Linked DNA regions of Homo sapiens: region 1 is linked to region 2. The links come from fine-mapping of genetic effects on gene expression. A gene starts in region 2. The other region holds a variant in brackets. All regions are shown on one strand. Distances are from middle to middle.

Region 1 (4,386 bases), 34 kb after region 2:
AAACCTGCTCTGCTGTTTCCTCTTCTTCTTCTGGGTTTTATTCCCAATACATGGGGCACCTCCAGTATGAAATTTGGCCTGGGCTTCTCTTGTGCTCTGAGAGCCCGATAAGCCTTGGCTCTGTGTCCCCACCCACATCTCACCTTGAATTGTAATAATCCCCACGTGTCAAGGGCGGGACCAGGTGGAGATAGTTGAATCATAAGGGCAGTTTCTCTCATCGTCAGTGAGTTCTCACAAGACCTGATGGTTTTCTAAGGGGCTCTCCCCATCGCTCGGCTCTCATTCTCTCTCCTGCCACCGTGATTGGTAAGTTTCCTGAGGCTTCCCTGGCCACGCGGAACTGTGAGTCAATCAAGCCTCTTTCCTTTGTAAATTACCCAGTGTTGGGTATTTCTTCATAGCAGGTGAGAATAAATTAATACAGAGCCTCAAGAAAGACAAAGCAGGTTAAAGAAAGTACAAGCATCTTTGCCCACCAGAGTGACAACCCTAGACATCACCGAGGATGGGCAAGGCACATCCCATATCCTTCTGGCAGGAGTAAGAATTAGCCCCAGCTCTTTGGAAAGCACTTTGGCACTGTCTAGCCAACCTGTGTGTACTGTGTGACCCTGACATTCTCTGTCTTGGTATAGATGTGAGCAAAGTTCATACTCATGTGCGTTGGGACACGCGTATAAGAAGGTCCACAGGGCATTGCTTATAGGAAAAAAAAAAAACAACCCAAAAACTAGGCTGGGCATGGTGGCTCCCACCTGAAATCCCAACACTTTAGGAGGCTGAGGCAGGAGGATCACTTGAGGCCAGAAGTTCAAGATCAGCCTGGGCAACATAGTGAGAACCAATCTTTCTTTAAAAAAAAAAAAAAAAAAAAAGGCCAGGCACGGTGGCTCACATTTTTAATCCCAGGATTTTGGGAGGCCAAGGTGGGTGGATCACCTGAGGTCAGGAGTTCGAGACCAGCCTGACCAACATGGTGAAACCCTGTCTTTACTAAAAATTACCTGGGCGTGGTGGTGGATGCCTGTAATCTCAGCTACTCAGAAGGCTGAGGCAGGGGAATCACTTGAACCCAGGAGGTGGAGGTTGCAGTGAGCCGAGATAGTGCTATTGCACTCCAGCCTGGGTGACAGAGTGAGACTCCATCTCAAAAAAAAAAAAAAAAAATTACAGGTGGTGAGAGCCTGTAGTCCAAGCTACTCAGGAGGCTGAGGCAGGAGGATCACTTGAGTGAGTCTGGGAGGTTAAGGCTGCAGTCAGCCATGACTGAACCATTGCACTCTGGCCTGGGTGACAGAGTCTCAAATGAACAAACAAACAAAACTAGAAACAAATGTCTTCAACAGGAGAAAAGTAAAGGTAATATATGCATGCAATGGATCTAAGATAGCAGTAGTTCTTAGCCAAGGGCAATTCGGCAATGTATGAAAATATTTTTAGTTTTTAAAGTGGGGGACAGGGGTACTACTTCCGTCAAATGGGTGGAGGCCAGGGTTGCTGGTGAATGTCCTACAATGCACACAGTAGCCCCTCACAACCACGCTGAGGTTGAGTAACCTTGCTATATGGCTATGAAAATGAATGAACTACAGCTACATGTACCAACATAATGAGGGCAGAAGCACGCTGCAAATGAACACATGAAGGACCATGCCATGAAAGAGTTCAAAAGCATGCAAAATCAAACACTATTTTTTTTTGAGGTGGAGTCTTGCTCTGTTGTCTAGGCTAGAGTGCAGTGGCATGATCTCTGCTCACTGCAACCTCTGCCTCCCGGGTTCAAGCGATTCTCCTGCCTCAGCCTCCTGAATAGCTAGGATTACAGGCACCTGCCACCACACCTGGCTAATTTTTGTAT[T/G]TTCACTGGAGATGGGGGTTTTGTCATGTTAGCCAGGCTGGTCTCGAACTCCGGGCCTCAAGTGATCCACCTGCCTTGGCCTCCCAAAGTGCTGGGATTACAGGTGTGAGCCACCGTGCCTGGTCTAAACACTATCTTATAAGGGAGAAATATGGTAAGCTGAAAGCACAGGAATAACCAACACAACACTGAGATTCCCAGATACCCTTGGGTCGGGGAAGGCTGGGACCTGTGACCAGGAGGGGCTGCAGGAGCATCAAAAGCAGAAGTGGTAATACTTTAGTCTGGGTGGTGGGCTCCCAGGCATATGCTTCTCAGTGTTCTTTGTAATATGAACCAGTTCACCATAAGAATAATATTAAGTGCATTGAGGCAATAGCCAGCTCTGCAAAGAACTCCCCTGACTCAGTTTCCCCAGTATGTTGAGCCTCCCTCTTGTCTTGTTCCATCAGGCGATGGTGTGAGGAGATGTCAGCAGCTAAAGGGGCAGGCGGAGAATTTCCATGGCTCTGGCTGGGAAGTCATGGAAAGGGAGGGGTCAGATGCTGACAGCCCCCATCAATCTCTTTATTTCCATCACACTTGGCTCTGGCTCTGGCCTGCCTGGCCTCAAAGCCTTCTCACTGTCTGCTAGTCTCAGTGATCTCCCCTCAAACCTCCTGTTGAGTGCTTTCTAATCACACACAAGTCTGGCCAGATCTCTCCTCTGCTCTAAGCCTTTCTGTGGCTCCCCACTGCCATCAGGTTATACTTGAGGCTTTTTGTCAACATGTGAGGCCCTTTGGGCTTCAGCTGCACCCTTGCCTTGCAACATCAGCGGTTCTAGGCAGCCGTCCTGTGCAGTGCGGACTTCCTGAGCTCCAGAAAGGTGCCTGGCACGATGGTTAACAGTGGGGATGAAGGAACCCATCCTCCCCTAGCCCTCTCACTGCTGCCCCTGGCGGTCCAGCATGTAGGGAAACTGGCAGTCCCAGCTTCATGCGGTTTCCCCACCTATAAATGTGGGAGTTGAGACACATGACCTCGGAACTCTGTGTTCTTGAGGATCCCCATATTCTGGGCTGGCCCCACCCCAAAAGGAAGAAGGTGGCAGCCCAGGGCCATACCCAGAATCCTTTGTAGCCCAGTCTGCCAGGGGCAAGCATGGGGTTTCCTGGACAATCCTTGTTTCACTGGACCTCAGTGTTTGCCTCTGGAAAATGGGTAGAAATATCCTCATGGGAAGATAGTCCTGGTGCAGAGGATGGGAAAGGAAGCGTGGCTCCCCTCCCCAGAGCTTTGCAAGAGCTCTGCCAAGTGCTTAACACTAGCTCTGTCAGGGAGGGCTTGGATGAGAATACTGGGGCTCTGAGAGGACAAGGGACTGGTCTAGGGTCACCCACCCAGACAGTGATAGAGTTGCAGGGAGACTGAGCTAATGACATGCAGTGTTCTATCAGTAGAAATAGCTGGAGAGCTCTGACCACAGGTGCCATCCAGAGGCGTCAGAGCCACTGAGGCTTGGTCACAACATGGAAAAGCCTGAAGCAGGAGGAAGTGGGTGGTGAACATGGGTCCAGGCACCTTGCAGACACTCAGCATCACAGAACCAGAGTCACAGCAGAAGAGACATCGCAGAGCATCCACCCCATTCCTCCTTCTTGAGAAGGGAAACTGAGGTGTGGGAGACAGTAGTCTATGGGGTCAGATACACTCTGGAGCTCAGATGGTCCTGGGTTCAAATCCTGGTTCAGCCACTTGCTAGCCATGTGACCTTGGGCAAGTGACTTAACCTGTGTGAGCCTCAGTTTCTTACTCTGTAAAATGGGAACAGAGGGTTCTTACCGCATCAGTGAGGAGTCAGTGAGACAATCTATGTGGAACTCTAGCACAGTGCTGGGTACCTAGAAAGTGCCCAGTCAACATTGTCCATATTAGTAACACTTAACCACTTTTCAGTGGACCCTGACTTCTTGCTGCTGGTAGCCTTTCAGGATGATACCTCATAGTCTGGCCCAGACCTGGTCAGCCACCATTGCCTCACTGTCCTGAAGAAGATTCAGCTACCACCAAACACTTTGTTGGCCATACCAGAGTCCTTGGGTGTCCACAAGCCTCTGAACACTGCCTGTAAGTTCACGCCCAATGAGCTGAGCTTCTTGGAGGCAAACAACCAGCCAATAAGAACCCATGTTCAATCCTCGAAGGGCTAATGACACCTCCTCATAGGTTTATTATAACCCTCAAAAGAGGACAGGTTAGAATCATTGGCATATACTGAGTCTAGGATAAGCGGCAGGTGGTGTTGGTTATTGTCATTGTCATTGCCATTATTATTAGATATCAGAGCTCCCAGGGAAAGGGTCCAGCTTCCTTCTGAGGCTTACAAAGCCCTCCTCTGCCCAGCTCCATCGCTCAACCTCTTCCCGACTTTCCCCACCCTGCTGTTCCCTTCTGTATACCCCAGCTGCAAGGTGTAATAGTGTCTCTCCACACCCCTCGCCTGCTCACCTCTGGGCCTTTGCTTGTACTGCTTCCTCCACCTG
Region 2 (4,386 bases):
CAGTGGCTCAATCTTGGCTCACTGCAACCTCTGCCTCCCAGAGTCAAGTGCTTCTCCTGCCTCAGCCTCCCGAGTAGCTGGGATTACAGGAGCTCCCCAACATGCCCAGTTAATTTTTGTATTTTTGTAGAGATGGAGTTTCGCCATGTTGGCCAGGCTGGTCTCGAACTCCTGACCTCAAGTGATCTGCCCACCTTGGCCTCCCAAAGTGCTGGGATTACAGGCATAAGCCACCATACTCAGCTTCATTTTAAAGATATTGTGAGGTGCAGCAGTGACCTGCCCAGGTCACGAAGCTGGGGAAGTGACAGAGCCAGGATCAAACTCCAACTCCAAGTCAGCCTTCTTGCCCTTCCCCACACCACCTGCCCCTGCTGGCCGAAGGCTGGGACACGGCCCTGGCCCCTGGGGCCTCTCCACCCCAGGCCTCTCACTGCCCAGATGCTGAGGCAGGAATGCCTTGGGGCTGCCCGTCCTGCTCCATTTCTGCATTCAGCCAGGCAACATTTGCCCACTTGGGTGTGGTCAGGCCCTGGGGCCTCAGACTCCCACAAGAGGAAAACAAATAGCGGTGGCACCACCAGGTGTGCACAGAAGCAGGGGCTCCACCCTCAGAGGGAAGATGGGGGGCCCAGGGGCTTCAACAAAGAGCTGTCGCTCAGTCTTGAGAGAGCTTCTGCAGGCCAGGGCGCCATCCCCAGGAGAGGGCACAGCACCCACAGAGGTGGTGGCGGAAGTGGCAAGGGCATCAGGATGGGGGTGAGACGCTCGTGGGGGACAGTGGCCCCAACCCCCTCAACAAACCCGGGCCACACGTTGACCACGCCCACGCCAGGGCCCCCTGCTTTCACTGCCCCGGGGACAACACAAAGGAGCACTGACCGGGACAGATGCCTCTCCACCTTGGTACCCCGACAAGGGTGCAGCTGCTCGGGGTGGGACGCTGAGGGGTCGACTCCAGGGGACTGGGGCAGAAGAGCCCCCAACCTCTGAGGAAATGATGACATCATCTGTCCGTCCGTCCGTCCTTCCTGCTTCAGGAGGGGAAACTGAGGCCCCGAGAAGGCCCAAGTCACAAAACTAATGAATGGCAAAGCCAAGAGTCGTCCTGGGATGCGCGGTCTCCCCGCCCCGTGCCAAATGACTCCCTGTTGGGGCTTAGAGTTCCCGAGTCCGCCGCCCACTCTTGGCCCTCGCCCCCGCGGGGTTCCGATCTCTGCTCCAGGACTCGGCCTCCCGCGCCCCGCCCCGCCCGGTGGCCGCGCGCCCGCTCACCTGGCACAGCAGGTCCCTCGCGTAGCCGGCGCACGCGGCCCACTCGGCGGCGTCCACGCGGCTCGCCAGGGCCCAGAAGCGGCGGGTCAGCTCGGCGTCGCGCCCCTCATCGCAGCAGCCGAAGTCCGAGTACTGCGCGCAGAGGCGCAGCGGCTGCGTCGGCCGGAAGGGCGGCCTGAAGTCCAGGCACTGCGGATGCGCGGCGGCCCCGAGCACCCAAAGCGCCAGCAGCGCCCCGGCCCTGGCCCGGGCCATCGCTACGCCCCGCGGGGGAAGAGGCGGAGGGACGGCAGCCCCGGTCCCCTCCCGGGGCGCTCGCGGCGGCAGGGAAGGGGCGGGCGCTCCCCTTCCCTACACGCAGGGCCTCGAGTTTGGGGACCTCCCCTTCTAGGAGGTCACCTCTGGTCGGGGACACTCGGCGGGACTGAAGGAAGAGGGACGCGGCGCAGAATGCGGCACGACCTCTTTTAACCGCTTTCCAAATTCGATGGGAGTGGCCCGGTCTGTTTAAAGCCCCGGTGTGTTTTCCCGGTTCCGCCTGGGGCCCTGCTTCCTCCCCACAGGGCGCTCTTTAGCCAGGGAGGCGCAGGGCCAGAGGCCTGGACTCCTGGGCTTCGGTTCCACCTCCCACTGGGCTAGGGAAACGGATGCCCGCAGCCCGTCCCCGAAAGCTCCCACGTAACATTTTAAAAATGGGGGTGCGAGGGAAAGAACAGGGGGTGTTGCCCCAGGACTCTCAGGGAGAAGTGAAACCTGGCGTAGGGGTGGGGAGGGAGGACGGAGCAGTCTCCGCAGTCCACCCTTTGCCCTTACTGTGGGCTTCTTCCCAGTCTCTGCTCCTGGGGCAGCGGATTCTCCTGCAGCCCAGGACCCACTGGGGCTCCCCACTTCCACTCTCGCATAGGGAGCACTGATGAATCTACCTCCTGGGATGGGCATCCAGCCCTTTGTTCCGCTGCCCCCGCTGGAGATTCAGACCCAACCCCGCCCCACCCCCCCACACACATACAGACGCACACACGCTGTCTTACCTACCCCAGAATCTCATGGCACCAAAACCACCCACACAGACAAACACACACACACTGTCTCACCTACCCTAGAATCTCACAGCACCAAAACCACCCAGGCATTTTTCTCAAGTGGACCTCAGCGTTTGCTTCTCCCTGGAGTGTCCTTCCCCATCTTCTCTGTCCAGTGAGCTCCTACTCCATCTTCATGGCCCCAACGCACACATCCGTCCTCTGCAGGTCTCTTTGGACTGTCCTGGGGGATCATGTTTCTGTCTTTGGGCCCATGCTCCTGGCAGAGCTGGGGGTGGATGAGATGCGGCAGGGCTGGAGCACTCAGAGGTCTGTGGCTCTGGCCTGAACAGGTGCAGTGTAAGAGTCAGGGTCTCCGCACAGCCAAACATCTCTGAGTATTTGAAACACGGGGAATTTAACGCAGGGACTTGAAGCCAAAGAGGCTAAGAAGCCATACAGGGCTCAGTGAAGTAACCTTGAGATCAGCAACAGTAGGAACAGTCCCCAGGTCCTTGATGCAGGAAGAGCAGATGTTACTGGAGCCAAGGAGCTATGGTCACCTTGTCAAAGCTGGACCCTCACAAGGCCTGTCTGGCCACAGCTGGAGATAGCCACTGTCAGAGATTCTGCACAGACAGAGGAGGAGAAATACCCCGGCTTCTCCCTGCCACTTCCCCTCCAACTCCCACCTGTGGCTTTCATTGGCTGAACCTAGCAGAGGGCTGCTAGGGTGGGAAATGCGGCCTGCAACGGCTTCCTGCACAGACAGCTGGGAATAGGCAGAGCCAGGATGGAATCGGAGGGCACGATGGCGCCTACTTCCCAGCTGGGACTCAGAACTGGGTGATAGTCACACATCAACACAGGGCTCCAGATGAGTGTACAGAGGTGGAAGTGACACAGAGCCTGGGCCACAGCCATGAGGTTTGGGCTCCTACAGCCACAGAAAATGTCAAACACAGCCCAGCCCCAGCCAGAGTAACATAAATCCTCACCCTAATACCTATTTACCTCGGTTTCTGTTATCTAGTACATCCTGATTGGCTTTCCAGAAAAACAACAAGGCATGAAAAAAAGATAAGAAAAGTCACAGTCAGGAGCCGGGCACAGTGGCTCACGCCTGTAATCCCAGAACTTTGGGAGGCTGAGGCGGGCGGATCACCCGAGGTCAGGAGTTCGAAACCAGCCTGGTCAACATGGTGAAATCTCGTCTCTACTAAAAATACAAAAATTAGCCAGGCGTGGTGGCACGCGCCTATAATCCCAGCTACTGGGAGGCTGAGGCATGAGAATCGCTTGAACCCAGGAGGCGGAGGCTGTAGTGAGCTGAGATCGTGCCATTGCACTCCAGCCTGGGTGACAGAGCGAGACTCTGTCTCAAAAAAGAAAAAAAAAAGTCAGTCAGAAGGAGCATCAGAGCCAGCCTGGGACATGACACAGATGCTGAAATTACCAGACATGGAATTTAAAATAACTATGACTAATATGTTAAGGGCTCTGGTGGAAAAAGTTGACAACATCAAGACCAAACATCTCTGAATATTGACAAGGACATTGGCAAGGACAAATGGGTAATAGAAGCAGAGAGGGGTCCACTTTAAGAAAAAAAATGAAGGCCGGGCACAGTGGCTCATGCCTGTAACCCCAGCACTTTGGGAGGCCAAGGTGGGCGGATCACGATGTCAGGAGATCGAAATCATACTGGCTAATACGGTGAAACCCCATCTCTACTAAAAATACAAAATTTAGCCGGGCATGGTGATGGGCGCCTATAGTCCCAGCTACTTGGGAGGCCGAGGCAGGAGAATGGCGTGAACCCAGGAGGCGGAACTTGCAATCAGCTAAGATTGCGCCACTGCACTCCAGCCTGGGTGACAGAGCGAGACTCCGTCTCAGAAAAAAAAAAAAAATTAAAAGATATATTAAAAGTCAAAAACAATGTAACAGAAATGCCCTTGCCGAGCTGACAAGTAGACTGAGACTGCCGAGGAGAACACCAGTGAGCTTAAAGATGCGTCAGCAGCAGCTTCTCAAACTGATACACCAAGAGAAAAACAGAAGTTACAAAAACAAACACTAGAGCATC

Which allele goes with the higher level. Alleles are on the strand shown, and positions count from the first base shown. SD is a standard deviation of normalised expression in the study named.
For the expression in fetal neocortex of the gene that starts at base 1,609 in region 2, G is the high allele of the variant in region 1 and T is the other (moderate effect, 0.64 SD a copy in Walker 2019).

Evidence for each region. PIP is the estimated chance that this variant, and not a neighbour inherited with it, causes the effect.
Region 1: its variant is the best candidate, but not a certain one, in a credible set for the expression of HHIPL1 in fetal neocortex (Walker 2019, PIP 0.89).

Annotation. Positions count from the first base shown.
Region 1 is chr14:99,608,078-99,612,463 of GRCh38, reverse strand. It overlaps a transcript of HHIPL1 not described here. Among named protein-coding and RNA genes, the nearest start is that of CCDC85C, 6.1 kb to the right of the region's middle. The variant T/G (reference allele first, on the strand shown) is at 1,862.
Region 2 is chr14:99,642,352-99,646,737 of GRCh38, reverse strand. HHIPL1 (HHIP like 1) reads right to left here and starts at 1,609. Exons shown (of 9, transcript NM_001127258.3): 1 at 1,276-1,609. The coding sequence starts at 1,530.